Linked DNA regions of Homo sapiens. The protein of the gene in region 1 purifies or fractionates together with the protein of each later gene. This does not show direct contact. Each region holds a gene or a part of one and is shown on either strand. Other genes may lie near its edges. The genes, in order: DLK1, MYORG, CSPG5, CABLES2, PRAF2, ANO6 and MAP2K7.

Region 1 (4,292 bases):
GGTGAAATATCTTTAATCCCCTCCTACCCCTCTCCCTCCCTATCTTTCTGAGCCTCCCCCATCCAGACTGGGTGCAGGGGTGCAGAGCTTTCCTCTCCAGCAGGGCTCTAAGCCTAAGCCGGGGGCAATGGGGAGGAGGGGTGTCTGAGGAGCACTCCCTCTCCCTGGGAGCTCTGCAGAGGAAGAGGGTCTCTGGCAATCAGCATCCTCTACCTCCACCTCTCCAGCGGGCGACCCCTCAGAGAAGGTCTCCCAGTGAGTCTGGAATACGTGCCGAGTGCCTGGAGTGCTATTGTGTGTATGTGAGAGCACATTGGTGAGGCTGCCCATGCATGCCACTGTGGACAAAGACAGATGCGATCGTGTGTGTGTGGGGACTGCGTATATGTTTTTGTCAGTGTGTGTGACCACGAGTCAGCTGGGTATGTGTGCTTGTGGGTATCAGGTGCATGGCTGTGCGTACATGTGTGCGTAAGAGTCGGTGCATTTGTGTTTCAGCGCGGCTAAGGCCCTGACTGAGATGCTGTGTGTGCGGGGGTGGGTGTGACTGAATGCGGGCACGGGTGTCCGTCTGTTTATACGTGTGTTTGCGTGTTTGGGTGTGCAGGTGGCTCTGCGTAAGCGTCTGTGTGCAGGGGGTCGGCACATGGGGGAGGATGCCCATGGTTGGGTAACCGCAGGTCCGCTTGACCCTCTGCCACCTAGGACTGTGTCTATACGGCGTCTGGGCTACAGTGTGTTTGAGTTGCCGTGTGCGTTTCCGTTGCGGGGTGTGGGTTGCCACGGGGCAACTGCATTTTTCTGCGTCTTCATGGCCAGGGGTACAGGGGGCGTCGGGCTTTTCCTGGGGGTTTTTCTGTGTGCGTGTGTAATTATGTGCTTAGTTCACATCTTCATAGTGCGCCTTTGTGTTTTCCTGGGTATCTAACCATTGCACGTGTGCCCGGGACTTCAGCGATAAGTGTTTCGGTGTTCCTGCGTGCGGATTTGTGCTCTCCGGGGAGGTCTGCGGCCCAGGTTCGATTCCTGCGACTTGTCCTAGGCAGGCCTGTATGTGCGCGGCGGCCGCGTGCTGTACAGTGTGAGGGAACGTGTACCAAACGCTCGCGGGATACCTGTGCCCGTCTAGCCAAGAGTGCACCCGTGTGCGCGAGCGGGCTTCTGGGACGCCGCCGTGGTCGGGGGCGGCCCTGCGAGGGGAGGGGGTCACAGGGACTGGCCGGCGCCGGCCCCGTGCGCACGGAGGCGGGGGCGGGGGGCGGGGGCCGCGAGGGGGGAGGCGGTACGAAAAGGGCGGCGCGCGCGGCGGCGGCGGCAGCTCCCCGGCAGCGGCGGTGGAGAGCGCAGCGCGCAGCCCGGTGCAGCCCTGGCTTTCCCCTCGCTGCGCGCCCGCGCCCCCTTTCGCGTCCGCAACCAGAAGCCCAGTGCGGCGCCAGGAGCCGGACCCGCGCCCGCACCGCTCCCGGGACCGCGACCCCGGCCGCCCAGAGATGACCGCGACCGAAGCCCTCCTGCGCGTCCTCTTGCTCCTGCTGGCTTTCGGCCACAGCACCTATGGTGAGTTCCCCGGCGGCCCGGCTCGCGCCCCCTCTGGGGAAGCCTGCGACTCCCCGCCGGCCGCCCGGTGCCCCGCACGCCCCGTCTCGTGAGCCCCAACTCCGCCCGTCCCGCCTAGCCCTAAGCCCCGCGCTGTGCCTGTCTCGCCCTACCCACCACGCTCGCATGCCAAGGCCCGTCCCAGGGGTCCCAGGGCGCAGGGGATGTGTGAGACCCCCAGCCCCTTCCCGCCCTGCAGAAGTGGCGCCAGAGGGGTGTCGGTGCGCTGAGCAAGGAGGTATGGAAAAATGGGGTGCTGTTGTGGAGTCTTCTATGAAAATACTCTGGGGTGCAACTTTGGGGTGTCCCTGTGTGAGCGTTCTGGAACAGGTCTCGGGGCGGGAGTGGGGGACGACTTTGCCGTCTTAGCCCCCAATTCCCAGAGAAGCCCAGCCTGAGCCCTTCCTGCGTGGCGCGTTTCTGTAGGTGAGGGGCTGCGACACTTCTGTCTGCAGCGGCCATCTGTCTCTGACAGCGAGAGAGTTGCCCCCTTCCTGCAGCGCCCCCCCACTCATTGCACCAGTGGTTGTAAGGGGGCTGTCTAGAAAGCTGGGGAGCTGGTTGAGTAAATGCACACAGTAGGTGCCTGTTAAAGTGTCAGAATCTCTAAGCAGTGTTGTTGCAACCTCAGCCCGCTAAGCAAAACCCTGTGTCGTCATCGTTTTTTTAATGCGAAGAGTCTGGGGTAGGGGAAAGAGGGAAGATTTGACCTGGGTGCCCGGCTTAATAGGGATGAACCTTAAAAAGAATGCAGACGCCTTACTGGGGCGCCCACCAGGTGAACCTGTCTGGGCTTTCCCGGAGTTGAACACCTCAAAATCTGCTCCTCTTTTCAGCTCAGGTTGCAAAAGTGACGGTCAGGCTGCATGCCCAGGGCTCAACATATTTCCCTCCACGGTCCCCGTCCCCGCTGTTAGGAGGACTTGAGGTGTCGTATTTGCTTTTGGGAGTCCGAGGAGAAGGTGTTTCTCCTGCTCCTAAGAACGAGGGAGAGTGTACTGTGGTCATTTCATTGCTGGGAACGTGGCAGAGATGTTTTTCCTGAGTGCACTGAGCCCCATCCATGCTCGGATAGGAAGTGCCTACTGTGTGCCAGGCTGGTAGGACCCAAGAGGGCTGTTGGTGCCCTCGAGGGCAGTGGTGGGCTGTGTGGGCGAAGACAGCCTTTGCCTTGGCCTGGGGCCTGGTGGGGTGAATTGTATAACCTTTCTTGTACCTCAGGGGCTGAATGCTTCCCGGCCTGCAACCCCCAAAATGGATTCTGCGAGGATGACAATGTTTGCAGGTAATAGAGTGGCTCCTCAGAGGCAGCTTGTAGGGGCCACGCAGAAGCCTGGGGAGTCGTGAAGTCAGGCAGAAAAAAATAGGGGGCTTGGCCACTACGCTGCAGCAAACAGCTTCCGGGCCCCTGCAGAAAACTGGTGGGGCGAGCTGGGGAGATGGGGGGGGCGGGGGGGGGGCAGCCACAGCTCCTGTCTGCGTTCTCAGAGGTGGGGGGGCAGGTGGGACCACTGCAGGCCACTGCGGCAAAACGCAGCACTCCCCCGGGATCTCGGGGCCCCTCCAAGTCGGCCCCCTCAGCTTGGCATGTTTTCTCTTTAAGTTTTCCCATTCAGGTGGCTGGTGTTTACTTCCCAGGACCACCGGCTGCCACTGTGCAAAGACCCCCAAGGGTCCTTGGTTCCACAGAAAGTAGCCTGAGCTGCCTCTCTACCCCTGCCCTCTTCATATGTCCCCACCTTTCTCCCCCACCCATTGCAGGTGCCAGCCTGGCTGGCAGGGTCCCCTTTGTGACCAGTGCGTGACCTCTCCCGGCTGCCTTCACGGACTCTGTGGAGAACCCGGGCAGTGCATTTGCACCGACGGCTGGGACGGGGAGCTCTGTGATAGAGGTTGGCACTCGCCTTTGTTCACCTCAGCTCTGCGTCCTTACCTGCCTGCCCTAGCCCCTACCACCTCCTCCCAGTCTCCTGTTGCTGGTGTTCCTCACTTCCTCATTCCTGCACACTCCGTGCCCTGTATTCTAAAGATCTGTTTATAAATTTCCTGTGGGTACCGAATGCCTCCTCAGAGGTAGGGACTTTATTTTGCTCTTCTCTGCGCCATCAGCACCCAGCACCTAGAGGGAACATGGCGTGGGGGCCAGGGAGCTGCCTGTTGAATAAAGAGTCACAAAATACACATACAGCTGGGCCGGTGGGACCACAGACCCCAGGCTGCCTGTCCAGGTCATGGAAGCCCAGTGATGGACAGGGCTCTGGGGATCTCAGAGCTAAGACTCCCTAGAAAAGCACACGCAAGACTGTAAAGAGGCTGCAAACAAACAAACGGGGTGGGGGGTGGCCAGCACTGCTCAGTGGTTGAGGGGCAGGTGCTGAGTCAGGGCCAGGAGGACAGGGCTGGGGGGCCTGGACTGAGTGGGTCAGGTGTAGGGGGAGGCTGCAGTTGGGAAAAGCTGAGAAAGGGTTAAAGTGAAGATGGGTGTTATCTGTTGATTTCATTAATTTATGCAATCTTTGCCTCCATTACCCCAAGCAATTGAGAGTTGGCTGTCACTGCATTTTCAGGCTGCGAAATGTTCGTCTAAGCCCATTTTCATTTGGCAAAACCAGCCCTAACGTTTGAGCAAACTGAAGTCCACAAAAAAACTCCCAGCTGTGTAGCAGCCTGCCCTCAGGGCCCCTGTCCCTCAGTCC
Region 2 (3,714 bases), on another chromosome or scaffold:
CCTAAGATGGACAAAGATGGCCACGAAAGCCAGGAGGGGGAGGTTTCTCTTTGTGCTTTTAAACCCCAACCATGTATAACCATGTATAACAGGAAGAGAGCTGACCTTTTTCCTCTAAGCTCTCTGGCTTCCACCCCAGGGAAGAGGTTTCTGCAGATTGGTGTGAGTGTGGGGGTGGAAAGGGCACAGTAAGGATTGTGCGTTGGAGCAGGAGATTGCTTCAGTGCCCCCTCCCTAGGCCCCACCTTCAGCAGCTGGTTCCAGCACATTTAAGTCAGCAGCCACTTAATGGGTGGTATAGAGGTGGGAGGTTCCTGGGAGTACATGGTGCGGGTGTGACGGAGGGTTCAAGGTCTGCATGAAGACTGGGGGCTTTGCGGTTACCGGGCCCTGGGCTGGGTCAGGACGCCCAGGTAAAGTAGGCGATCTCATCCAGGTCGACCGGGTAATCGGTGAGCAGCACCGGCGTCTTGTCGAAAAGCTCACCCTTGTAGCTGCGCCACTTGCCGGCGGGCAAATAGACGTCGCGCTCCTGCTTGCCTGGCTCCAGCACCGGGGCCACAAGCAGCGTGTCCCCAATAAGGAACTGCGAGTCGATACGGTGAGCTGTCTCGTCGCCGGGCGCAATCCACCAAAGGGGGCGCACGATAGGGTCACCCGTGTCGGTGACCTCGCCCGCCAGCTCAAGCAACAGCGGTGCCACAAGCGAGGCCCGCAGGGCGGCGAACTTCTGCGCGATGGCCACCACTTCCGCGTCGTAGCGCCAGGGCGGGATAGAGAACTGCATGGCCGGCATAAAGGCGGCCACTTCCAGCCAGCGAATGTAGAGCTCGCGCTCGGGCACATCGCCGCCGGCTGTCCGCTGGGGCACGGCGTTGCCGCCCACCATATCGGGTAGGATGAATGGGTAGCCCAGCATGCTGACGGTGAGCACCGCGGGGATGAGTGAGCGCAACCCCAGGTCGTAGCCCCACACAGAGTCGCGATCCACCAGGCGGAAGAAGCAGGAGATGTTCTGTGACTGGTAGCCTACGCGCACCTCCGCCAGCGAGAAGAAGGGCAGCGCCATCTCAGTGTAGCGCCGGCTCCAGACGCTGGGGTCCGGCAGCGGCCGGTAGGTGCTGAAGTCCCGCGGCAGGTAGCTGACCTCGCCCGCGTCGAACTTGAAGGAAGCCACGGAGTAGCGAGAGCGCAGCCGCCGCAGGTGTCCCTGGAACCAGTCGCGGGCCTTTGGGTGCGTGAAGTCTAGCACCGCGCCGATGCCGTTCCACCAGCGCACCAGCGCAGGTAACCGGCCCGTGGGTTCGCGCACGAACAGCTCGCGCTCCACGCCCTCGCCGAAGCGCGACGAGTTGTAGTTGACAAAAGGGTGCACCCAGAGCGTGACGCGGAAGCCGGCGTCGCGCAGGCGGCGGAACATGTCGCTGGCGTTGGGGAATTTGACCTCATCGAAGTCGAAGTCGCCATAAGCAGGTGTGTACATGTCGTCGATTTCCAGGTGGCTGCTGTTGAAGTGGTGCAGGCGGATCTGTTGGGCAAAACGCAGCACCTTGTCCTGGTCCACGGCGCGCCCGTACAGCGCCCATGTGGACCAAATGGGGTCTCGGAAGGCCTCGGGTGCTGGCACCCTTGACGGCTTGTTGAAGTAGCGACGCACCATGTACTTGTGGATGGAGGTGACGTCTGAGCCCACGCACACTCGGTAGCTCAGCTCTGGCGCTGCGGCGCGGCCGGCGGGTGGCTTGTAGGGCGTGTCGTGGTAGCGCGCCTGAAGCCGCAGCGAGCGCTCCGTGCTGTTCCAGCCCAGGTGGAAGGGCACTGAGTCATTGACTTTGATGGCGGCCGCGCGCGAAGATAGCCAGTAGCGCTCGAGGATGCCCCCAAACGCGGCGTCGGAGGAGTAGACATCGCTGGTGACGAACGGCTGGGGCTCCTGCTGGCCATCCAGGCGGATGGGCCAGTGTTGCGTCCTCATCTCGGCGCCACCATACCAGTGGGCCGCCGCGTCGCCCAAGAACATGGCGTGCTCCACGGCCCGGCCCGGCGCTGCCTCCTCCCAGCGCACGCGGTAGCACATGACCGTGTCCTTGGGCCGCACAGTCTGGATGAAGAAGTGCAGCGGCAGCCCGTCGGCCGTGAGCGAGCAGCCCAGCAGGGCGCCATCGCGGCTGCAGGAGTCAAGGTCCAGCGCGCCGGAGCGGAAGGCCAGGCGGAAGACCTGCTCTCCCTTCTGATTGCGGATGGAGAAGCCGCCAGCTTTCAGGTCCAGCAGCTCCGCGCGAAGTCGCTCCGCCTTGCGTAGGGAGACGCTGTAGTAGCACCAGGCCACCACCGCGGCCAGCACAAGCAGCAGCCCCAGAACCGCGGAGCCCAGCAGCGGCTTCAGGTCTTTGGAAGGCTTGGGCTTGGCAGGTGAGAAGTTGTCGGGCAGGAAGGTGTACATAGCTGCGGCTGCGATGGCCTCGGGGTTCTGACGGTATGCGTAGCAGCCAGGCCGGCGGCGGCGGGGGTAGGCCTGGCTCTTCTCCTGAGGGTTCTGGAGCATTAGTGGGCTGCTAAGAAAGGAGCGGGCCGTGGGGCCATCTGACTGAGTTCATCTCAACCTGCTCTGAAAGGAGGAGACAGAGATGGAACTGAGCTATCTCATCCCATGATATTTCCATTTGCTGCCGCAAGCTAAGAGGAGGTGTATACTTTGGGAAGATGAATACTGGAACCTGAGGGCTTGAAGAGTGGCAAAGGTGAGACCCTTACCAGGACAATCTGTGCCTAACCCACCCTTTCTCATGGGACCTAATGCTTGCCCAAATTAGGACTCTGTGACTGGGGAGCGGCCCATGTGACTGGGAGATGGCACCCATCCTCATTTTCCTAGTGGAGAAACAAACCCTGAGAGGGTCAGGAAGCTTTCCAGGATCACAGGATAAGCCAGGCCTCCCCAGATCACACATGGGGCCGTTCGGGCTGAAGAGACGGGAAAGGAACTAGAAAAGTCCTGCTCTCCTAGAGGTGTGGATGGTCAGGGTGGGAGAGGGGGTATTGTCCAGCCAGCTCCTTGAGACTTTTTTTTTTGAAATGGAGTCTCTCTCTGTCACCCAGACTGGAGTGCAGTGGCATGATCTCAGCTCACTGCAATCTCTGCCTCTTGGGTTCAAGCGGGTCTCCTGCCTCAACCTCCCGAGTAGCTGGGATTAAAGGCGCACACCACCACACCTAGCTAATTTTTGTATTTTTGGTAGAGACAGGGTTTCACCATGTTGGTCAGGCTGGCTTCGAACTCATGACCTCAAGTGATCCACCTGCCTCAGCCTCCAGAAGTGCTGGCATTACAGGCGTGAGCCACCTCGCCCAGTCCCCCTTGAGACTTTTAACAGGGCGGTAGGCTAGCTTCCCTGTCCCCAGAGGGGGAGAGGAGGGAGGAAGGGAGAACAGCTCAGGGATGTGTTTTTATCCTGAGTCAAAAGCCTGATGAAGTCTGGAGATTGAAGAAGACACCCAAAGCCAGACTTAGTCCCAGGGCCTGGTTTGGAGGGAGGTAGAGTTGGGTTCAGACATTAGGGCCTGGGGCAGGAGCCTGGCATGGGGGGCCAGTTGTTTCTCACATCTGCTTCTCTTTGCCCTCAAACTCACCCTGCTCTCAGCCATCATCCATCACCAAATCCATTTCCATGCCTGCCTTCCTGCTTTGCTCCTGGCACCACATCTGTGGGCCAG
Region 3 (3,714 bases), on another chromosome or scaffold:
GGGCTCATGGGATCTAGATTAGAAAACTGTCTTCTGAGCCAAGGGATGGAAGAAGCATATCCCAAAAGCAAGAGATATGCAAACAGTGCTATTAGACAAGCTGAATACCTCCAACAAACACAAGAGGCAAAGGAATGTCTACACCAAGATGGGGCTCTCCTAACTCAGGTGTTTGCTCCAGAACTTGATCCTATTAAGCCAAGGGTAGCTGAATTCCACAGCAGGTCCAACTGCCTTTGACTTAATAGAAGTACCTCATCACAAGGGAGCTGGATCAACATCTGGCATAAGTTCCTAGGAACCACTGTGGACTCACTGCTCCCAGCATTCAATCCCAGCAGTATGGGCACCCTTCAACCCAGGGGTCATGTGGGTTCAGGCCTGGCCAGAGGCAAACATCTATTGGAAGAGGGTGGGCAGTCAGTGCTTTAACAAATACATGCAAGAGAAGAGTCTGGAGAGTAGGAAAGAGTTAAATAGGAAAAAAAAAAAAAAAGCACAGGAACATCAATGGAGAAATCCTAGGAATAAACTGAAATCCCGGAAGGTCTGTCAAATCTTAGCACAACCCAAGTTACCCCCATGGTCTCGACAGCACCGTTGTGAGGACCATCAGGGCAGCCCAGTGTTGGGGCAGCTGCCCTGGGTTTCTGGTGGCTTCATTCACGCAGTGTGCCTGGAGCACGGGCAGCTTCCTACATTCTCTGTGCCTCCTGACATACCCTTCAAGGCTGGTTGCTCAGCTACGCAAGACACTCACACAGACTCAGCCTAAGGCCCACCAGCTACAGAGCCGCACATCAGCCTGAGGGCAGAGAGGAGCAGAGGAGGGAAAGAGGTGCCACCGGCACAGATACCAGCCACTGACCCTTCCCTGTCACAGGCCCAAAGCCCCAGACTTTTTTGCTTGCAATCTTTTCAGAGTGTGGCTGGTAGAGGTGATTGCGACAGTGTAGGAAAATGACCTGCTCAATCTATTTTACGTATGTAAAAGAAATAACACCTCGATGCAAATAAATAAAACTCTCCAAAATTTTAGAGAAAACCAATACCAGCAAGGAGTTTGGGGGTGGGGAGAGAGGGGTGGGGAGAAGCCACGAGGCAGGCTGGACTCCGGCGCCCCCTTGTCTCTCCTCCCGTATCATCTGGAGGATCTCTCACTCTCCCCGGCTGCTGGCACCCCTTGCAGGCAGTGAGTGTGGCGGCTGTAGCAGTGAGCAGGGCTTCACTTCACAAACAAGTGGCAACCGTGTTCATCGGCAATGCCCACAAGATCTTGAATATGACTAAGTTTGACCTTTGGATGAGGTGGAGAGAATTAGAGATGAAGGTAGAAAATCCACCACTACATTCCTTGCTGGATAGGAGAGTCACCCCTCACATCCACAGTGCTTTCAGAGAGGAGAAGATGATGTCCCCTTGGGCACAAGCTGACGGAAAGACACCAGCCTCAATCTCCTTGAAGTCTGGGTATTTGGTTACAATAAAAAAAGGCACCAGCCTCAAGATCCAAGAGGAGCCAGGAGAGAACCAGAGCCAGATCTTGCTGCTTCCTAAGGGATGGCTTGAGTGCCGCCCTGGCCACCCCATCACCCTGTCTCAGGCAGAGCCCACTATGGCCGACCAGCCTCACCCGCCCTGTGGCTGACCCCCAAGCCCCATGCTAGATCACCACTGCCTGTGGCCAACCACACACCGTGGCCGACCACCACCCTCCCGTGGCTGACCACCCCCTGCTCTGCTGTTTTCAAGGCTTGCCATCTTCTGAACTAAGGGTCAGTGGCAGCGTTCAGGTACAAAAGCCTCACTTTCCACAAAGCTGGATCAGCCAAGAACAAGAAACCTTCGCACCGGCTGTGTAGCCAAGCCCTCCAAGAGGAGCTCTTTCTTTTCCCCCTCTGAGAAGAAGAAAGGTGTCTGAAGCTGTGGTATTAGAAACACAAGGGTCAGAAACTTTCCTAAGGATGCTTGCACTCTGTCAAGCAGAGTGGGAGGACTCTGTCCAACCGTGGACAGTGAACATGCTGACTACAGGAGCTCCCGTCCTGGCAGACCTGCTGCCATCTGCAGGATGGCAGATCAGCCAATGGAACTGAGAGCCCCCATAGCCCACCATCACTCACTAGTATTCAGCAAGTGGTAACTGTGTGCATGTTACTGCAGAGGGCGGGATAATGTGCTCACCGAGACTCTGTCCTGCCCTCTGTGGGTTGATGAACATGGTGACCAATTTTAGAGTTTATAAGACATAGTGTTTCCTTGGTTATAATGTTCATCTTGACCTTACTTGTTGTATCTTGGTACAAACCAAGTGAAATAATCTGTTCTTTTTCTACCCTTTATATCAAAGACTTTAAAAAATTATCCTAAGTTTACCTCTTTCATTTCATATTTAAATTCACCCATTTACTTCTCCTCTACCAGGCCAAAATTTCCTGTTCTGGGGTTTTGTGAATGAGGCCACACATTTACTCTTATTCTCTCTTCCCCCTTCTGGGGCTGCAATTTCCCCATCTATAAAAGGAAGAAGGCCAGGCATGGTAGCTCACACCTGTAATCCCAACACTTTGGGAGGCTGCGGCAGGAAGATCACTTGAGCCCAGGGGTTCGAGACCAGCCTGGGCAACATGGCAAAACCTCAACTTTACAAAAGTTAAAATAATTAGCCAGGTGTGGTGGCACATGCCTCTAGTCCTAGCAACTCAGGAGGCTGAGGCAGGGGTATCACTTGAGCCCAGGAGTCTAGGTCTGCACTGTGTAATGTGGTAGTTAAGAGCTCTACAGCCGCAAGTGGCTAGTGGCTGTTGTAGTAGACAGAGCAGATATAGAACACTTCCATTTCACAGAAAGTTCCACTGGACCGTATTGGTCTAGAGTGCTGAGGCCCCTGTGAGGTCTGACACTCTATGGTCCATGATTTCTAAGAACTTCTTCTAAATTTCCTCTTAAAGTCCATTGCTTCAGTCTGAAGTCTCAGTTTAACTTGCTTATCTGTGTAATAATCTGTGTAAAAATGCATTTATCTTGAAGTATGGAACCTGCATTATATAGAGAATTCTAGGATTTGGATGTGGCATGATTTGAGATTTGGATATGGTTTCTGCCTTGTTTTTGAAATTCTCTCTAGTATTTGACTGGTCAGTCTAATCCAGGCAATACACTAGGCCAGGGTCTTTAGAAAATGGTCTATTAGGATCTTTTATTGGATTTCAACTGATATTTATAAGCCCATACTCCTAAGAACAGGATTACTCCTGGACTTAAGGCTCTGCCAGTGTTTTGTATTTGGGCCTTGGCCTTAACCAGCTGTGTATAACCCTGCCAGTTCTTAGGATCCTCAAATAGCAGCAAGGACACAGAAGTCTTTCCACCCATCCCAAAGAGCAACCACCGTTTGCTTCACTGACCACCATGAAATTCCCCAGCAGTGAAAGCAGAGCCTTTCTCCTTGATATGGAAAATAAGACAATAATCAGACTTCTAAAGCTTAGATGAAGCTAAAAATCATGAGTAACCCTAGAAAAAGATCTTCTCAGCCAGGCAGGTGGCTCACACCTATAATCCTAGCACTTTAGGAGCCTGAGGCAGGAAGACCACTTGAGGCCAGGAGTTCGAGACCAGCCTGGGCAACACAGGAAGACCTCATCTCTACAAAAATTTTAAAAAGAAAAAGACCTTTTGTATCGAAAATTCTGCTTGTCAAATAAGTGATAC
Region 4 (4,414 bases), on another chromosome or scaffold:
AAGGTCACAGAGGTACTGAACAGTGCAGCTGGGATTCCAAGCCAAGTCTGTTCCCAGAGCCCAGGTCAAACCACCACACTCACAAGACCAACATCAGGGCTGCCTTCAGGACTTTCAGAATTCTCTCCATTTCCTGAAACCAACTCATCCTAGAACTCTCAAGCCAGGAGCTAGCAGCCCCTTTTGCCGGGGCAGCCACCCTTCCCTCGATCAGCAGCCAGGCCCAGGGAACGCAGGGTGAAATGGACGTCCTCACGCTGGGGTCTACCTATCAGGGAGGGGCCATGGCCCTCAGAAACAAGGTCAGCACCACGAACTTGGCAGCAGAGCCCCAGGAGGGACGCCTCCCCCTCCAGGAACAGAGTGGGGTTCAGGAAAGACCTGAACAGGGACATGGGGGCCAAGGAGGAGGGAAGGGAGGAGACAGCCCTGGGCAAGGCAAGGGGTGGTGGCGCTTGGGCCCATGGTGGGTACGGCAGGAGGACTGCAGGCACCCAGCCCATGCCACGTCCCATCCTGTCCCAGGGATGCCGGCCACAGCGCACCTTCTAACAATCCCACAGGGCAGGGATGTGCTGCACGTGGGCAGCATGCTGCGCTCAGAACTGTCACCATGGAGGCTCTGGGCCTGCAGGGGGTGCCTTCTCAGTCACAGGCACTTCCCTGCGCGTCGCCACGCTCTGCCTCCCTCCACTCAAGTGGGCTCCACTCCACGCCAGGCCTGGTGCACACAGGGGTGCATGAACTCTGTGGAAGGAGGGCCTATGACAGCACCCAGTCTGCCTGGTGTCACCATCCGGTTCTGGACACTCAACATGCAGGACTGAGGGAGAAAGCTGTTTCCATGTCAAACAACAGGGCCCGGGGTTAGGGAAAAGCCCACCACACCTGCGGAGCTCGGCCCGTTGGGGTGAGCCCGCTTCCCCTGGAGTCCACACCTTAGGGCCTTGCCGCTCTGCCCTGGAGAGTCACCACCTTGTTCCATCTCTCCCGCCTTCCTGAAGGAGCTGGCCATGCCAAATGCATGGGGCCTGGCTGCCACATTTGGGCAAATCCATCCCTCTGCCCCAATCATCCCTCTGACCCTCCCTGGAGCAGCGGCCAGGCATGTCCGTGGGGGGACATCTTGTGGACAGGCCTGGGTCTGCAGGCACCCTCAGCCTGGCTACGGCCAGGAACACTTCCAAGGATGGAGTGCACCGCGACCTGCGTGTGACGCAACCTGCATGTGACGTCATAGTCTTTGAGGACAGAGTGCTGTGTTCTGGGCCCAAACTTCCCCAACCAAAGACCTTAGAGGAACCCAATGCCTCCACCTGCCCGAAGGCCAGGGGCGTGGGGCAACTCTGATGACCTCCAGGTAAGCAAGGAGCACGTGCCAGCCTTGACCCAAGAGCTCTGTGTCGGCCCCTTTGCTGCACACCTGCAGGGGCTGCCTCTGGGAACAGCCGCCCAGCAGGCACTTGGACCTGTGGACAGTGGCTCCCTTTGAGAAGGAACCGCAACAAGCAGCCAGTCCTGGGCCCAGAGCCCACAGTCACTCCTGGAGGTGAGGGCTGTGGGAGGCAGGGTCACCCAGGTCCTGTGGTCTCTGGGAGAAGGACACAGGGTGTCGGGCAGCCAGGGGCCATCTGGGCAGGGGGCACACGCTGGACAGGCAGGGCTCATGGTTGGGGTTGCCCTGGGATGGGCTGAGGTGGTTCCCAGAAATGGAATCAAGGCAGGGGGAGCAGTGGAGACCCAGGGTGTGACAGACCCAAAGATACCGAGCTGAGAGTGATGTGGGGAAGGGCGGGGCTCAGCAGGGAAGTGACAGGGAGAGGAGGGGTGCCAGAGACCAGTGGCTGTGGGATGGGAGATGTGGCTGTGCAGGGGCCTCTGGGAACAGGTGTCAGTGACAGTGCCAGGAGGACCCCGGCCCACATGCTGGGTCTGAGGAGGTGGGCATGGACGGTGTGGCCCGGTTCAAAGAATGCGAAGAGATGCACAGGGCTGTCCATGTGTCCCTGTGTCCCGGGCACTGGTACCAGTGGATGGGGGTGGGGGCATGTCCAGAACCCACAGGGCTGGGGGTCTCAGGGGTAATAAGGGCTGAACCCTAAAACCCATTTCAGAGCACTGACAACGTGGAGATCCAGACCCCGTATTCAGGGGCTGGGAGAATTCAGGGGACAATGAACCCTATGTGTGGGGGGTGACAGGGCCTGAGGAAACCCTCAGCCAGCCCAGGAACCCCCAGTTCTGTATCCAGGACTGACAAGGTCCCAGGTGAACCCAACCCCTGTGTCCTGGGCTGATGAGGGCCCAGACTGACCCTGACCCCTGTGTCCTGGGTTGACAGGGGCTCAGGTCACCTGAACCTCTGTCCAGGGCTGACAAGGCCCCAGGTGAACCCAACCCCTTTGTCCTGGCCTCTGTCCAGGGCTGACAAGGCCCCAGGTCACCTGACCCCCTTGTCCTGGGCTGATGAGGCCCCAAGTAATCCTGACCCCTAGTCCTGGGCTGATCCGGCCCCCGTCCCCGTCCCTGTACCCCGCGTCCTGGGCTGACCTGGCCGGGCCCCCACTCACCTCTGGCGCTGCCCATCCAGGCCGAGGCCGGTGGGCACCTGCGTGGGGCTGAGCAGGCCCTGGGGCGCGGGGGTCCTGGCGGGCAGCCCGGTGGGGGGCTCCGGCGGCGGCGGCGCTGGCGGTTCGCGGGCCTCGGCGGGCGGCGGCGGGGGCTTCTCTCCGCCCGGGCCCAGGCTCGGGGGCCGCCCGTCCAGGGAGATGTTGTTGAGGAAGAAAAGCGCGGCCTGGCGGCGCCGCGAGTCCCCGCGCCTCCGCAGCGCCTGCGGCGGGGCCCGAGCGGCCGAGGTCGGCGCGGCGGGTGGCGGGGGCCCGGCGGGGCCGGGGGCCGGGCCCGGGGCTCCACCGGCCGCGGCCGCGGCCATCCTCAGACTGCGCCCGCCGCCGCGAAGCGCCCCACCCCCTGCCCGCGCGCCCGCGCGCCCGCCGCCCATTGGCCGCGGCGCGCCCACATGCAAATGTATCGCCGTCGCGCTCTCCCATTGGCCAGCGAGGTGCCGCGCTCAGGGCGCTCCCCTGGGTCCTAGAGGCGGTCGGACGCAGCAGCAGGGAGTCGGGAGCTGCGCGCCTCCCCGCCGGTTCGAGTCCCCGTCTTGGGACCTGCGGCCGCGGGGCTCTCGCTTTCTGTTCCCTTTGCTGTATGGCGGCCTTCGCGGATGGCCTCCATCGAGCGCACATTTTAAGGCTCCGGACCCAGGGCGGCGTGGGTGAGGCCCCAGCACACTTCCCTGTCCGGAGGTGTGTCTGGGCGGCGCTTCAGCGGGCGCAGGGCGGCCCCTGGAGGAGCCCCACCGCTTCCCGGAAGGGCCCGCGTGCCATCTGGCCTCCTTCATTGACAGAAGGGAACGAGGGTCTGAGTGGAGAAGGCACCTGCTTGGGATCAAAGCCCCAGGCAGAGTCCTGCACTTCCTGCAGTAGCAAAGTGACCTTGAGCCTGCCTTGTGCCCAGGCCTGTTTCCTCTCTGTGCCTGGGTGCCCCTGACTTCAGAACCTGTGAGCCCGTGGCACCGGGATGGTCAGGGCCTGCCTCTGGAGCCCGGGAGCCTGTCTGCAGTCTGGAGGGGAACCCGCTGTATCTTTGTGGAGGGACTCAGGACCTTGCACCCACCTCTGTGTCACCTGCCTGCTCTGTCCAGCTTTCTTTCATGGGTTTACGTATCTTTAAAGAGGGGACAATGATTTCAGCCTCAGGGTACTGTCAGGATGAAACTGGCTCAGTGAGGGGGTCGGGCTGTGGCCGGAGGCCAGGCACATGCAGTGGTCAGTCCGCGAATGCGCTGCAGTACCTCGCACCTGCCCGCATGCGCCCAGCCTCTCCTGTGCTGGGTGCTGGGGACCCGGTGGGACCGACAGGCACAGCGCTGGCCCTAGGAGCACCTGGTGTGTGGGGAGGCAGCATGATGGCCAACAAGGCAGTGGGCGAGTGGGCAAGACAGGGTCTTCATCACCACCCCTAGCATGGGCCCCTGCCCTTCAGGCCCCTACCCACCTCCCGCCTGCCTGCTCCCTCCTGTGGGCCTTCACGGGCCACCATTGGGGCTCACGCAGCATGCAGCACCTCCATTTCCTTTCCCTCCGCCCTTCCAAGTTGGCCTCCAAGGCCTCTGCCAGGCCTAGGGGAAGGTGGGCAGCTGTCCTGTCTAGGAGAACGCGGGGCTGGGTGGCATAGCAGAGGGGTGGCTGCGGATTCTGGATCCACAGAATGGGGTGCTGACTTGTGTGCCTGGGGGCTCCCGTGAGCGGGGAGTGAGTGTGTCCAGCGCTGTAGGGTGCTGAGGCTGGGGCAGGCACACAGTGGGCCCTCCATCCCTGCTGGCTATCACCAGGAGGAGGGGCCTGACAGGGGA
Region 5 (4,184 bases), on another chromosome or scaffold:
ACTGCACCTGTCCTTCCCTGTGCTTTAATGCTGATCCAGAGGTCATAAGTTCAAGGAAGGGCCTCAGAGATCACCTCTTCAGCCCACATATTCAGGAAGAGTCTAGCAGAATTGAAAAGTAGGCCACTTCTGTCCTTTGAAATGTACAAGGACTTTACCCAGGAGGCTCAAATTGGCATGAGAGATGCAACAGGCTTTATTGTTGCAGCAACACTAACATATACGCCCCATTCCCTGCTGAGGCCTGTCCCCACCTCACCCCTTGGTTGTCGATGGTGTGGAACATTGGGGTGAGGGGCAAAATGCCTAAGCAGAGCTGGAGGGAGGCAAATGGGACTGGTGAGGGTCGGGATCACCTGGACCAGGGGTCCAACAGTCAGGATACCCGACTCCATCCACACAGGGGCATGGAACACTTGGGTTCTGAGTTCAAGATTTGGCAATGTCTTGACCTGGGTTGGAAGGTAGGGTGGGGTCTGGAAAAGCTTTGGTCCAGGGTTCAAGATTTGAGAGTGCCTTGCCCCAGGCCCCAGTTTGGGGATGAGCATGGAGAAGGGTGGATGGGAGTGTCTCTGGGTTCACAATTTGAAATTGGCCATGGATGCTCTGGCCTGAAGCCAGTTTTGGGGCTGGATGTAGGTGGCTCTTGGTCCTGGGTTCAAGGCTGGGGAAGACTCTTGTCCCTAGGTAATGGGGGCTGGGTGTGAGGGATATCTTAGTTTGGGGCTGGCGTGGGGGTAGGGCGGTCACAGATGTCCTGTTTTGTTTGGGCAGGGGGCTCTAGGCTCCTGTTTTAAGTGCTGGGAAAGGGCTCTGGGTCCCAATTATGGGCTGGGGGTGGGGTGGTATTCTCCAGGTCCTGGGTACAGATCCCAGGGGCCTAGGATCCAGCCTCCTGCTCTTGTCCCAGTGCCTCTAGTAGCAGGCCCATTGGCGTCCGCTTGAGACCAATGCTCTCGATCTTGTTCTCAATCTTGTTCTTAAGGTTGCGCAGGCGCAACGAGGCGTGCACCAGGATCACTGTGGGCGGCACCGAGAGGGGTGGTCAGTGGAATAGACCTCAGCCTGCAGCCAACCGGGGCCCACCGAAGGGAATTGGCGCGCAGGCAGGCCAATGGAGTGGTGAGCAGCCAGGACGCCTCAGATACTGAAAGCGTGGCCGAGTAATTGGCTTGGCAACGTGGGCATGGCCAGGGAAGACGCCCGGTAACGGGGACGTGGCCAGTGGAAGGCACTTAACACCAAGAGTGAGATAGGAAAGGCGATAATAAAAGGGGTGTTCCCAGAAGGGGGAACGAAGCCCGGGAAGGCGCTTTTAGCGGGGGCGTGGCGAGGCCCTCGGGTTTCCCAGCCCCCTCTCAACCCGGGGACCGGCAGGGCTGGCCTGGTGCCTTAAGCATGCTCTGGCTGCTTTCCTGGCTATCTCGGGGTAGTGGAGACTCACGAAGCACCGGCCCGGCGATGCTGAACAGGAAGGTGCAAGCGCCGCCCGCGACCCAGAGCACCAGGAGGCCGACGGCAAGCACTGCGGCCAGGCAGGCTGCAGGGTGGCTGCGGCGGCAGCGGCGCACAGCTGCGCGGGTCTCAGCTGCCCACACCAGCACGCCGAGGGCCACCGCCACTACCAGCGCGCTCAGGAGCGTATGAAGTGGCCGCACGTACCTGCGGGTACAAGGGAACCAAGCTAGCCGGCCGGGCGGAGAGACGGCCTCCGGACCACCACCCACCCTGGGCCCCAAGAGCCAGGGTCTCCCGTCTCCGGACACTCCAGCCTGGCACATCCTCCCACCAGCCCTATCTCCAGCAGGCCCATCTGCCAGGGCTCCCGACTCACCCTTGTAGACCCCTCCTTTCCTCCTTGTCAATTCCACTGTCCTGTCTTCCTCAGGTCCCCGCTTCAGGCCCTCCCATCCTGCTAGACACTCCCCACACCCCCGGGCTCCCAACACTTCCCTGGACTTTCCTTCCGACTCTGCCCCCGTAGGGCCCCTCATCAGCCTGCCCGCAAGCTCCCCCTTTAACACCAGCCCCTGCAAATCCCTCTTTCAGGCCTTCTGTCTTCACACGTTCCCCTCTCCCCAGGCCTAGGGTCCTTATAGAACCGCCCTCCAGGCTCCCATTTCCCTATAGATTCCTCCCTCCATCATTGCTAGGACCTCTTCCAGGTCGTCAGCCCCACTCTGAACTTTCAGCACTGCTCAAGTCCTTCCTCCAGATTCTCCATCCCTCTCTGGTCTCAGGCTTTCCAACCATGGATCCTCCTCCTGGGCCCAAGTTCCCCAACAGGTACCTGCCCCTGGCGCCTTCCAATCATAGCCAGGCTCCCCTCCAAGACCGGATCCCCAATAAATACATCTTCCAAACCCTCCAACTTTACCGTCTATTTCCCGGTCTCTGCCCTAAGTACTCCAGGGTCGGCCTCAATCTGGCCCCATCATTCACATCACACCCCCCCTACGCCCCTCAAGTACTCTCATGTCCCCCTTTCGGGCCCTCCTTTTTTTCCGGTTCACCTTCCAGCCCACTTTCCCCTTCAGTCCCACACTTGTCTCCATCCTCCCCATATCTTCCTTGCAGACCCCCATCCCCCGCAGGCCCTCCTCATCAGCCAGGCTCCATCTCCCTGAGGCCCTCCTTATAACTAGGCTCCACCTCCTTCAAGGCCCCCCTTCCAAGCCCCTCAGGCCGTCCATCTCTACTGACTTCGCCCTTCCCGGCCTTGCACCCCCCTCAGGTTCCCCGTCCTGGTCCTCAAAGACCTGTGGGTCTACCCCCACGCTCTGCAGACGTCCCTGGCCAACCGGCGCCTCCCTCCCTCACCCGGCGAGAGCGAGGCCGATGCCGAAGCAGAGAAGGTAGTTGGTTTGGTAGTAGAGGAGGTTGTTGATGACGCGGTGGCACCATCGCTGCGGGTCGCATGGATCCGGAGCCGCCAGACGCGCCGACCCCAGAACAAAGTCGTCCAGGGCGCGTAGCGGTGGCAGCCGCACCTCCGACATCCTGCCGGTTAATGTGGCTGGACCAGCCAGGAGGGGGCCGGACTACAACAACCGTTACGCCCCTCGCCACCGCGGGGCACACCGGGAAATGGAGTCTGGGCTGGGCAGCTTTTTCCTAACCTCCTAGGTGGATTGCGCAGGGGCGGCGATGCACGTGACCGGAAAAGCAACTAACACGCCGCTCAGGAAAGCAGCAAAGGCTGCCGGGAAATCAAGCCTTTGCCACGAAGCGAGATGCTCCCAACCCTTAAAACTGCCATCCACCCCCGCGCGGGGCGCCGCAGGGGCTGCTCCGGGCGGTGCCAGCGGCTCAAGCACAAAGTAGCCAGACAGATAAGAAAGGAGGGACTGTCACAAGGATCCGAGTTGGATTCCACCTCCTTCCTGTCAGCGCCCAAGAGGGTCACATTTCTCCAGGAAACTCCATGCCCCGCCCCTGAGGTCAAGCCGTAAATGCCATTAAGGGCCTTTTATTCGTATTCATCACATCGGAGATCATCTCTTCCTAGGAAGCTTTTAAAAAATCCCCAGGTTGGATTAGGGCACTCCCTCTGGGTCCCTGGCAATTTCCTCCAGGTTAGGGATCCCAAGGGGTCGCTGCCTTCCTGGGTCTCTGGCCTGGCCCTTGGGGCACACAGTCATCAAGAAGTGCTGGGGGGAAGTGAGCTCTTTATTTAGACATAGCTCTGCTGAGTGGAAAGTGGGCACCAGCCCCATTAATGCTTGCTGGCTGGTGGCTTCCAAGCACGCCCCACTGCCAAGGCTCAGCTCTGCAGTTCTGCCACTGCAGGTCCCTAGCACAGCCCCCAGGGTCCTTAAAAGTCATCATCATCACAGATGTCAAGGTACACGTCGAAAGCCTCTCTGTTGCAGTTTCCATCAGGAGTGAAGACATATTTGTGGAAGGTCCCATCTACGCAGATGGCTGGGGGAGGGGGGGTGGTAAAAGGTCAGAGGCTGCCACAGCCACAGGCTCCAGTCCTCTCAGGCATCTCAGGACCTAGGGTCTGCCTCCAGGCCTTTGCCCAGTGCTGTCCCCCTTACTGATGATGAAGCTGAGCCTCACATGGCCCTAAAATCCTTTCAGGTCCAACCTGCAGGCCTTTGCCCCATGCAGTACCCCCAACCAAGGGGCTGTTCCCACTCACCAATGACAGAGTTGACGTTCTTGGAAGTATTGCGACC
Region 6 (3,714 bases), on another chromosome or scaffold:
AAGATTAGCTATGAGTTTATAATTTTTGGAGCTGGGTGACAGATGAATGCAGGCTTGCTATGATACTCTATTTCTGTATATATTTAAAATTTCCCACGGTAAATGTAAAACAAAACAAACATTCATTTGTTTAAAACTCTCACTTTTAAGGTCTAGTAGTTTTCTCAAGTAGGTGGCAAGTGCATGGGGTGTTGAGACACCATAAAAAAACAGGTACGTGGCTCCAGACAGACATGAAGTTAACTCTCCTCTCCTCGTCACTCTCCACATCCAATCCATAAACAAGTCCTGTCGACCCGACTCCCCAAACACATCCCAAATCTGCTCCCACAGTCTTCTGCCTGGCTCAAACAGCCTCCTACCTAGTGGTCTCCCTGCTCCCTGTACCCCTTATAATCCATTCTCCACATTATCTGCAAAACGTGAATAGGATACAATGACTTAAACATTTAAAATATTACAACTGCTTCTCACTGCAATTAAAGTCTAAACTCTTTTCGGCGCTCCTGCCACCCCTCTAACTTCATGTCTTGCTCTGTTTCTCACTAGCACTGGTCTCTGATGTTTCCTCAAACTTGCCAAATGTGTGTGCATCTCAGGGCCACTGTACAAGCTGCCCCTATTCCTAGAAGGACTTCTGCCAAGTCCTCAAAGCACTGGCTCCTCTTCACTATCCGATCTCAGCTTAAAAGTCACCTCCTCAAAGATAACTCCCTCAACTCACTTCCCACTCTGCCCTCCCATCCTATTGCTCTGTTATTTTCTTCACTTCCATTAGAAATTCTGTTTATTTATTTTCATGTTTTATTGGCTTGTTTGGGTGTTCTTGGTCTATCTCCCACAAGCCAGAATCCTCAGCCCTGCCCAAACAACGTAAGCTTCTGGAGGAAAACCAACAGGGTACCTTGGGAAGAAAAACTCTTGAGCTAGTCATTGTATCTTGTGAGATACAACGAAATAGAACCTAGAGGCAGACATAAGAAAAGAGTGAAAATGTACATGTCTTACCATACAATAGAAACTACATCTAACATTTACTTCTGTGCAATATGGAATTTGGTGGGTCTGCATCCCAGTTCCTGGGCGGTGGGTAACCTCTAAACCCTTGGAACTTCCTGAGAGATAGGAGTGCCTTTTTATTCACAGTGGGACCCTAGGACTACGCCTGATAGTTTATGCCAGTGAAGTGGCTCATGGTGGACCTCTAGAGAGTTTGTGCTAATGAGATGACTCAGGGTGGAGGCTGGCCATGCCAGAAGATCAACCATGTGATTGGAGAACTGGAGCTTTGAGCCACATATTACTGGCCATCTTCCAGGGGGAGGATGATACTGGAGATGGGTAATGATTCAATTAATCATGCCCACATAATTAAGCCTCAATAAAAACCCTGGCCAACGAAGCTCAGCACTCTGGGTCAGCTCCCTTCACTGGCAAGAGTCTTGATGAGTACTGTCACATTCAGATGCTGTGGGGGTAACACCCTGAGTGCCTCCCCCTGGAGTACTCCCTACAACCCCTCACCTGATAAGATCCAAGGGCTGCTTTTTGTATATGCTTCGAGGATGAGCCCATTCTCTGTACAGAAGGTACCGTTCATTAGGGCAGCTGGGATCCTCTGACTGACGGCGGAATTTGCACTGTGACGCAGAAGGGAACATGTAAGCACCATAATCATCGTGTTTTCACAAATCTGCTTCTTAAATGTGATACAAATACTTGATAGTCAATTGTGAACAAGGGGTCCTCACCTTCTGGAAAGGGTGGAAATACCATCTAATTTTTAGTGATTCTTAACCAGGCATGGTACTACCCTCCTTGGGGGTCATTTATGAATGTGGGCAGGGATGAACGATTGGGTGTTACAATCCTGGGGAGCACTGCAGGGACTCTGTGAGGGCCCCAGAGATGCTTAAAATGCTTTAAGTGGGGCAGTCCTACACAATGAAAAATTGGGCCACCCAAGTGCCCAAATCACCACACCAGAGGAACACGTGATAACCCACCCCTCTCCTTGGACAATGGGGAAACCAAGGCCTTGGCTGGTTAGCAGCAGGGTCAATTCTAAAACCTAGGCTTCTTTGCCCCCAGTTCAGCAGTTATTCTGTGATAACATACAGAAAACAAACAATAAAGCTGGGTATCATGTTACACACTTAGCTTATTCAAGAAACAAAACTTCCTGCTTAAATCCAGTTGCCTTTTTTTCTGACTCATTTTTCTTCTTCTGGCACTAGAACCAGATTACCACCCAGCCAAATCAGGGCACAGGCCCTGACCTTCACACACCTCCCTCTCAAATACCACATGGGACCATTTGTTAGCCTGAATACAGGACCACTGCAATTAGAAGAGGCTTTAGTGGAAAAGACATGGCCAAAAGCAAATGTCAACTGTTAGAGAACCCTGGCATCCCAAATTAATATTCGTGACAGCTATTTGCAAGTGGCCTCAAAATTCATGTCCTGTTATTCGCAATTAGCTAAATTCAGTGGGGCACAAAAGTAAAACACATGGACTCTCAGGCTGGATGGCTACATTGGGTCTCTTAGGATCAGTATTTACCTCACCCAGCTCCCTGTTCTCTACTTTTCCATGTGTATCAAGCTGCTGTTTAGTGTCCTAGTTTTATTATGTTATTCAGTACATTTCAATATCGTCTCTATCCACAAATACATGTACTACACAGTAGCAATTACCAATCTCAGTCTTTACTTTCTTTGGTCTTACACAGTCAGATAAATTGATAGTGAATATAACAAAGTAATAATGCAATATAATATAGTATTTAATTTATTTCAATGACAGAGTTTAAACAGCTTTAGTTATAATGTCCCTGCATTTACAGTGGTCACATTTTAAAAATTTCATTTCACGAGAGATGTTCTCGGCTAGAGAAGTACTCTTGAATTTGAGGGGTTGCTGTGGTCTCAGAATGTAGTCCTTAAAAAAATGTCAACCATCTGGGGTACTGCCATTGTCACAACAACCCTGACAGATGCCTTTTTAAAAGCCCAGGGATATTCCAGGGGACAGTTTGAAAATCGTATTCCAAATGAGGAAGAAAAGTCTATGTTGCAGAAAATGATAAATGAGAAGGTCTAACATGTATTTTGCTGACAAAGAACTAATCTTTTCTGGTTGATAATAACATCTGTTAGTAATTATGAAAACAGCTAACACTTATAATAGTATTTATTATATGCTAGGGACTAACATTTGGATTAATTTAATGGATTAATTTAATCCTCTTAACAACTCTAGGAGGTAGGTAATAATTTATCCCCAGCTTATTGATGAGGAAATGGAGGAAGAAAGGCTAAATGACTTTCACAAGGTCATCCAGCTAGAAAGTGGCAGGGCAGGCATTTTGGTCTCAGAAATGCTAACACAGATTAACTGCTAATCTATACTGCTTTACACATTAACTGTGAGAGAGGTCCTGTCCATTCATTCATTCGCTCCTTTAAAACTGAGTATCTTTATAACTGGGATCCATCTGTGAACAAAAGACCTAGTTCTTACCCTAAATGAGCTTGTAATCTTGCAGTATGTTCCCTTCATTTTACTGAGGAAGAAACTTACAGTCAGGAAAGTTAGCCCTTTGCTATTGTCAACACCAGAGTATACAGAAGGCCTTTTAGTTCATTTTTGCCTTTTAACTTACATCATGGAGTGGGAAAGCTGCCTTGTAGATCCCAGAGTTTACAAGTC
Region 7 (3,714 bases), on another chromosome or scaffold:
ACTTGGGCGAGATGGGCAGCGGCACCTGCGGCCAGGTGTGGAAGATGCGCTTCCGGAAGACCGGCCACGTCATTGCCGTTAAGGTGAGCCTTGGCGGCTACCCCGGCTGCGCCCCACACCCCAGGCCGGTGCTGAGGCTCCCTCCTGTCCCTGCCTGTGCAGCAAATGCGGCGCTCCGGGAACAAGGAGGAGAACAAGCGCATCCTCATGGACCTGGATGTGGTGCTGAAGAGCCACGACTGCCCCTACATCGTGCAGTGCTTTGGGACGTTCATCACCAACGTGAGTACCTGGCCGCGCCCTGCAGCGTCTCCTCCTCCCTCACCCCTGCCCCTTCCTAGGGAGCAGAGCCTCTGGGGGGTGGGCCGGAAGACACAGCTCCCCCGGGTGCCCCTCTCCCTGCAGACGGACGTCTTCATCGCCATGGAGCTCATGGGCACCTGCGCTGAGAAGCTCAAGAAGCGGATGCAGGGCCCCATCCCCGAGCGCATTCTGGGCAAGATGACAGTGGCGGTGAGTGACCAGGCGGGGCTTGCACTGGGCAGGATGACAGAGGCGGTGAGTGACCAGGCGGGGCGTGCACTGGGCAAGATGACAGTGGCGGTGAGTGGCCAGGTGGGGCGTGCACCGGGCAGGTGGCCTTGGGTCTGTGCCCCCTGCCACATGCACCCCCCTCTGCGTGCCTGCAGATTGTGAAGGCGCTGTACTACCTGAAGGAGAAGCACGGTGTCATCCACCGCGACGTCAAGCCCTCCAACATCCTGCTGGACGAGCGGGGCCAGATCAAGCTCTGCGACTTCGGCATCAGCGGCCGCCTGGTGGACTCCAAAGCCAAGACGCGGAGCGCCGGCTGTGCCGCCTACATGGCAGTGAGTGGGGGCCCCCCAGCGGGGGAGGGGGTGGGGGCTGGGAGGCCGGCCCCAGCCTTGGAGATACGTCTTCTCCTCCCCCCCCTGCAGCCCGAGCGCATTGACCCCCCAGACCCCACCAAGCCGGACTATGACATCCGGGCCGACGTATGGAGCCTGGGCATCTCGTTGGTGAGTTGGGGCCCTCCCCTGTTCTCCAGCCAGGAGTGAGGGCTTCTGGGGGACTCGGAGGGAGGAGAACATAAACCTGTCCAGCCCTGCCCGTCTCCCTCCCAGGTGGAGCTGGCAACAGGACAGTTTCCCTACAAGAACTGCAAGACGGACTTTGAGGTCCTCACCAAAGTCCTACAGGAAGAGCCCCCGCTTCTGCCCGGACACATGGGCTTCTCGGGGGACTTCCAGTCCTTCGTCAAAGACTGGTGAGAACCTCCCTCCACTTGGGAGGTCAGGGACAGCCCGCTGCTCTGGGCAGCTGGGGAGGCAATGGCAGGAGGGGAATGGAGGCCGCACCCTGGGATGGGCGGATGCGACTGTGGGCGGGCTCCTGGCTGGCGGCTGCCACAGGAGCTGGAGCTGGTGCCCAGGGAGCCATGAGCTGGGTTTGGACCTAGCCTGAGGGGACAGCCAGCCCTGTGGCATTTGGCGGGGTGGCTGTTGGAGATTGTGAGCACGCTTCTGCAACAAGCACAGCTACAAGTTCAGGAGGGCCATGTTCGATTCTCTCAGGGGAGCCCCACCCACCTTTCTGGGGGACCTCAGCCAGCTCTGGCCCCCCAAGCCAGGCCCTTGCCACCTGGCCCTAGGCCAGGAGGCTCCGGGACTCACAGTTGCTCCCCGCTGTCAGCCGGGGTCCTGAGGACATCCACAGCTCCTTCCCCCACACACATCTTGGGGACCCCTGGCCCCTTGGGGAGGGCCTGAGCACAGGGGTGGGGCCGGCATCCCCTCCTCCCTCGTTCTCACATCTGTCTTCCCTTCTCTTGCTCTAGCCTTACTAAAGATCACAGGAAGAGACCAAAGTATAATAAGCTACTTGTGAGTACCTGAGCCCTCCCAGTCCCCGTCCTGTCCCTGCGGAGGCGCGAGGCCAGGAGGGAAGACCGTCTCCTCCTAAGCCCCACCCCCTCGGGCCCACAGGAACACAGCTTCATCAAGCGCTACGAGACGCTGGAGGTGGACGTGGCGTCCTGGTTCAAGGATGTCATGGCGAAGACTGAGTCACCGCGGACTAGCGGCGTCCTGAGCCAGCCCCACCTGCCCTTCTTCAGGTAGCTGCTTGGCGGCGGCCAGCCCCACAGGGGGCCAGGGGCATGGCCACAGGCCCCCCTCCCCACTTGGCCACCCAGCTGCCTGCCAGGGGAGACCTGGGACCTGGACGGCCACCTAGGACTGAGGACAGAGAGTGGGGGGTGCCCACCCACCCCCCCCGCCCCGGGCCTACCAAGCCCCCGCCCTTCCCACCCCGGGGTCAGCCGGCCGTGTGCGTCCCCCGACAGACACTGTGAACGGAAGACAGCAGGCCGCGATCAGAGTCGCTGTTCATTCAGCCGCAGCCTCTGGGCCGGGGCGGCCCCCAGGGGCCAGGAGAGAGCCCTGGAGTCCCGCAGCCACCATGCACGCTCCCAGCGTGCTGTGTCCTTCGCCACTCCCACGCGCCCGTTCCTCTTCCGTCGCCCTCTGTCCCCTGCTCTACCTCTCTGTCCTTGTCTGGCTCTCCCGTCACCCTCCCTGCCTCTGTCTCTCTTCTGGCCTGAGCCTGGGCCCAGCCACCTCCTGACGGGTCCCCTGGGTCTGCATAGGTCTCCCATGGCGCAATGAGTCAGTGGCCCCCAGCCAGGCAGTGTGGGCATTGCCACTGCGGCTGGACGGGGCTGCGCGCTCGCGCTCTCTCTCTCTCTCTCTCTCTCTCTTTGATCTCAGGGGGTCCTTTTTGGAGTTTATTGTATTTTATTGTACTTGGTGGGGTGTTTGGGGTGGGGGCGGAGGAGAGCTTGTTCTCGTGGGGTTGTCGGTACCTTCAGAAACTTTTACCAAAGTCACGATTAGCTGCTTGTGGTGGGGCCCCAACCGCCCTCGGGCACTGGGGAGCTGGGCTGGGGCTGCTGCTCTGGGGTCTCCGGGGGCCACAGCTTGGGGTGAGTTGAAGACCTCAGGGGATGTGGAGGGGTCTGCGGGGCCCTGGCCGCACAGGATGGCCTTCAGGGAAGGTGGTCTTGGGGCATGGTGCAGAGCAGGTGACCGGAGGGAATCGGTGACGGAGCGGGGCCAAGGGAGGGGTCCGGAGGGAGTCAGGGATGGAGGGCAGAGGGAGTGGATGTGGGGGTTTGAGGACGTGTGACAAGCTCCAGCAGGGGTGGGGGCCGGGCTGAGGGTGGGGGTGCGAGGTGGTCACTCCCATCGTGCCCCTGGCCGTCCCTCCACTCACCCACACCTGGCCCAGTCCACGTTGAGGTCCAGGACTGGGAAGGACCGGGTGAGTGCACCGGGGACCCAGGCCAGGTGCCCCCCGGAGCCTGCTGGGGTGGCCAGAGCAGGAGGGGGTGTGTTTCCTTTTTGTGGGTGTTGCATGCAAATCAAGTGGACAAGAAAAAATAACAAAACAAAAAACAAGAAAAAAAAAACACAAAACCCCGTAAAATCACAAAGAAAATCCAACACCAAAGGCGCAGAAGCCGGCTGGCCGTGGTGGGGGCAGCGTAGGCGTAGCATCCCTCTCCTCTCACTTAGCCTGTTGACTCTTGTTATTATCATGATATTCACAAAACGCCGCATGTTTAAAAAGTCATAGATGTCATCTTCTCTCTGCCCCCAGGGAGGAAAGCCACCTTCTCTTGCCCCTTGGCCC

The links.
Region 2: the proteins of DLK1 (region 1) and MYORG purify together in Homo sapiens (affinity purification with mass spectrometry; 4 studies listed by BioGRID and IntAct, with this or other methods). This does not show direct contact.
Region 3: the proteins of DLK1 (region 1) and CSPG5 purify together in Homo sapiens (affinity purification with mass spectrometry; 3 studies listed by BioGRID and IntAct, with this or other methods). This does not show direct contact.
Region 4: the proteins of DLK1 (region 1) and CABLES2 purify together in Homo sapiens (affinity purification with mass spectrometry; 4 studies listed by BioGRID and IntAct, with this or other methods). This does not show direct contact.
Region 5: the proteins of DLK1 (region 1) and PRAF2 purify together in Homo sapiens (affinity purification with mass spectrometry; 4 studies listed by BioGRID and IntAct, with this or other methods). This does not show direct contact.
Region 6: the proteins of DLK1 (region 1) and ANO6 purify together in Homo sapiens (affinity purification with mass spectrometry; 3 studies listed by BioGRID and IntAct, with this or other methods). This does not show direct contact.
Region 7: the proteins of DLK1 (region 1) and MAP2K7 purify together in Homo sapiens (affinity purification with mass spectrometry; 4 studies listed by BioGRID and IntAct, with this or other methods). This does not show direct contact.

Annotation. Positions count from the first base shown.
Region 1 is NC_000014.9:100,725,579-100,729,870, forward strand, and holds the start of DLK1 (protein delta homolog 1 isoform 1 preproprotein), read left to right. Parts: upstream 1-1,313; 5' UTR 1,314-1,490; coding exon 1,491-1,557; intron 1,558-2,817; coding exon 2,818-2,881; intron 2,882-3,357; coding exon 3,358-3,488; intron 3,489-4,292. UniProt on the Homo sapiens protein: May have a role in neuroendocrine differentiation.
Region 2 is NC_000009.12:34,370,399-34,374,112, forward strand, and holds part of MYORG (myogenesis-regulating glycosidase), read right to left. Parts: intron 2,609-3,714; 5' UTR 2,546-2,608; coding exon 401-2,545; 3' UTR 1-400.
Region 3 is NC_000003.12:47,565,201-47,568,914, forward strand, and holds part of CSPG5 (chondroitin sulfate proteoglycan 5 isoform 1 precursor), read right to left. Parts: intron 1-3,714. UniProt on the Homo sapiens protein: May function as a growth and differentiation factor involved in neuritogenesis. May induce ERBB3 activation.
Region 4 is NC_000020.11:62,404,345-62,408,758, forward strand, and holds the start of CABLES2 (CDK5 and ABL1 enzyme substrate 2), read right to left. Parts: upstream 2,942-4,414; 5' UTR 2,933-2,941; coding exon 2,571-2,932; intron 2,551-2,570; exon of another isoform or gene 546-2,550; intron 1-545. UniProt on the Homo sapiens protein: Unknown. Probably involved in G1-S cell cycle transition.
Region 5 is NC_000023.11:49,070,989-49,075,172, forward strand, and holds PRAF2 (PRA1 family protein 2), read right to left. Parts: upstream 3,015-4,184; 5' UTR 3,000-3,014; coding exon 2,821-2,999; intron 1,663-2,820; coding exon 1,445-1,662; intron 1,021-1,444; coding exon 881-1,020; 3' UTR 173-880; downstream 1-172. Other genes in the region: WDR45 (WD repeat domain phosphoinositide-interacting protein 4), read right to left, coding at 3,815-3,924, 4,148-4,184. UniProt on the Homo sapiens protein: May be involved in ER/Golgi transport and vesicular traffic. Plays a proapoptotic role in cerulenin-induced neuroblastoma apoptosis.
Region 6 is NC_000012.12:45,348,585-45,352,298, reverse strand, and holds part of ANO6 (anoctamin-6), read right to left. Parts: coding exon 3,668-3,714; intron 1,641-3,667; coding exon 1,525-1,640; intron 1-1,524. UniProt on the Homo sapiens protein: Small-conductance calcium-activated nonselective cation (SCAN) channel which acts as a regulator of phospholipid scrambling in platelets and osteoblasts.
Region 7 is NC_000019.10:7,910,291-7,914,004, forward strand, and holds part of MAP2K7 (dual specificity mitogen-activated protein kinase kinase 7), read left to right. Parts: coding exon 1-83; intron 84-162; coding exon 163-282; intron 283-405; coding exon 406-513; intron 514-689; coding exon 690-869; intron 870-959; coding exon 960-1,040; intron 1,041-1,124; coding exon of another isoform or gene 1,125-1,145; coding exon 1,146-1,288; intron 1,289-1,858; coding exon 1,859-1,904; intron 1,905-2,006; coding exon 2,007-2,141; 3' UTR 2,142-3,714. UniProt on the Homo sapiens protein: Dual specificity protein kinase which acts as an essential component of the MAP kinase signal transduction pathway. Essential component of the stress-activated protein kinase/c-Jun N-terminal kinase (SAP/JNK) signaling pathway.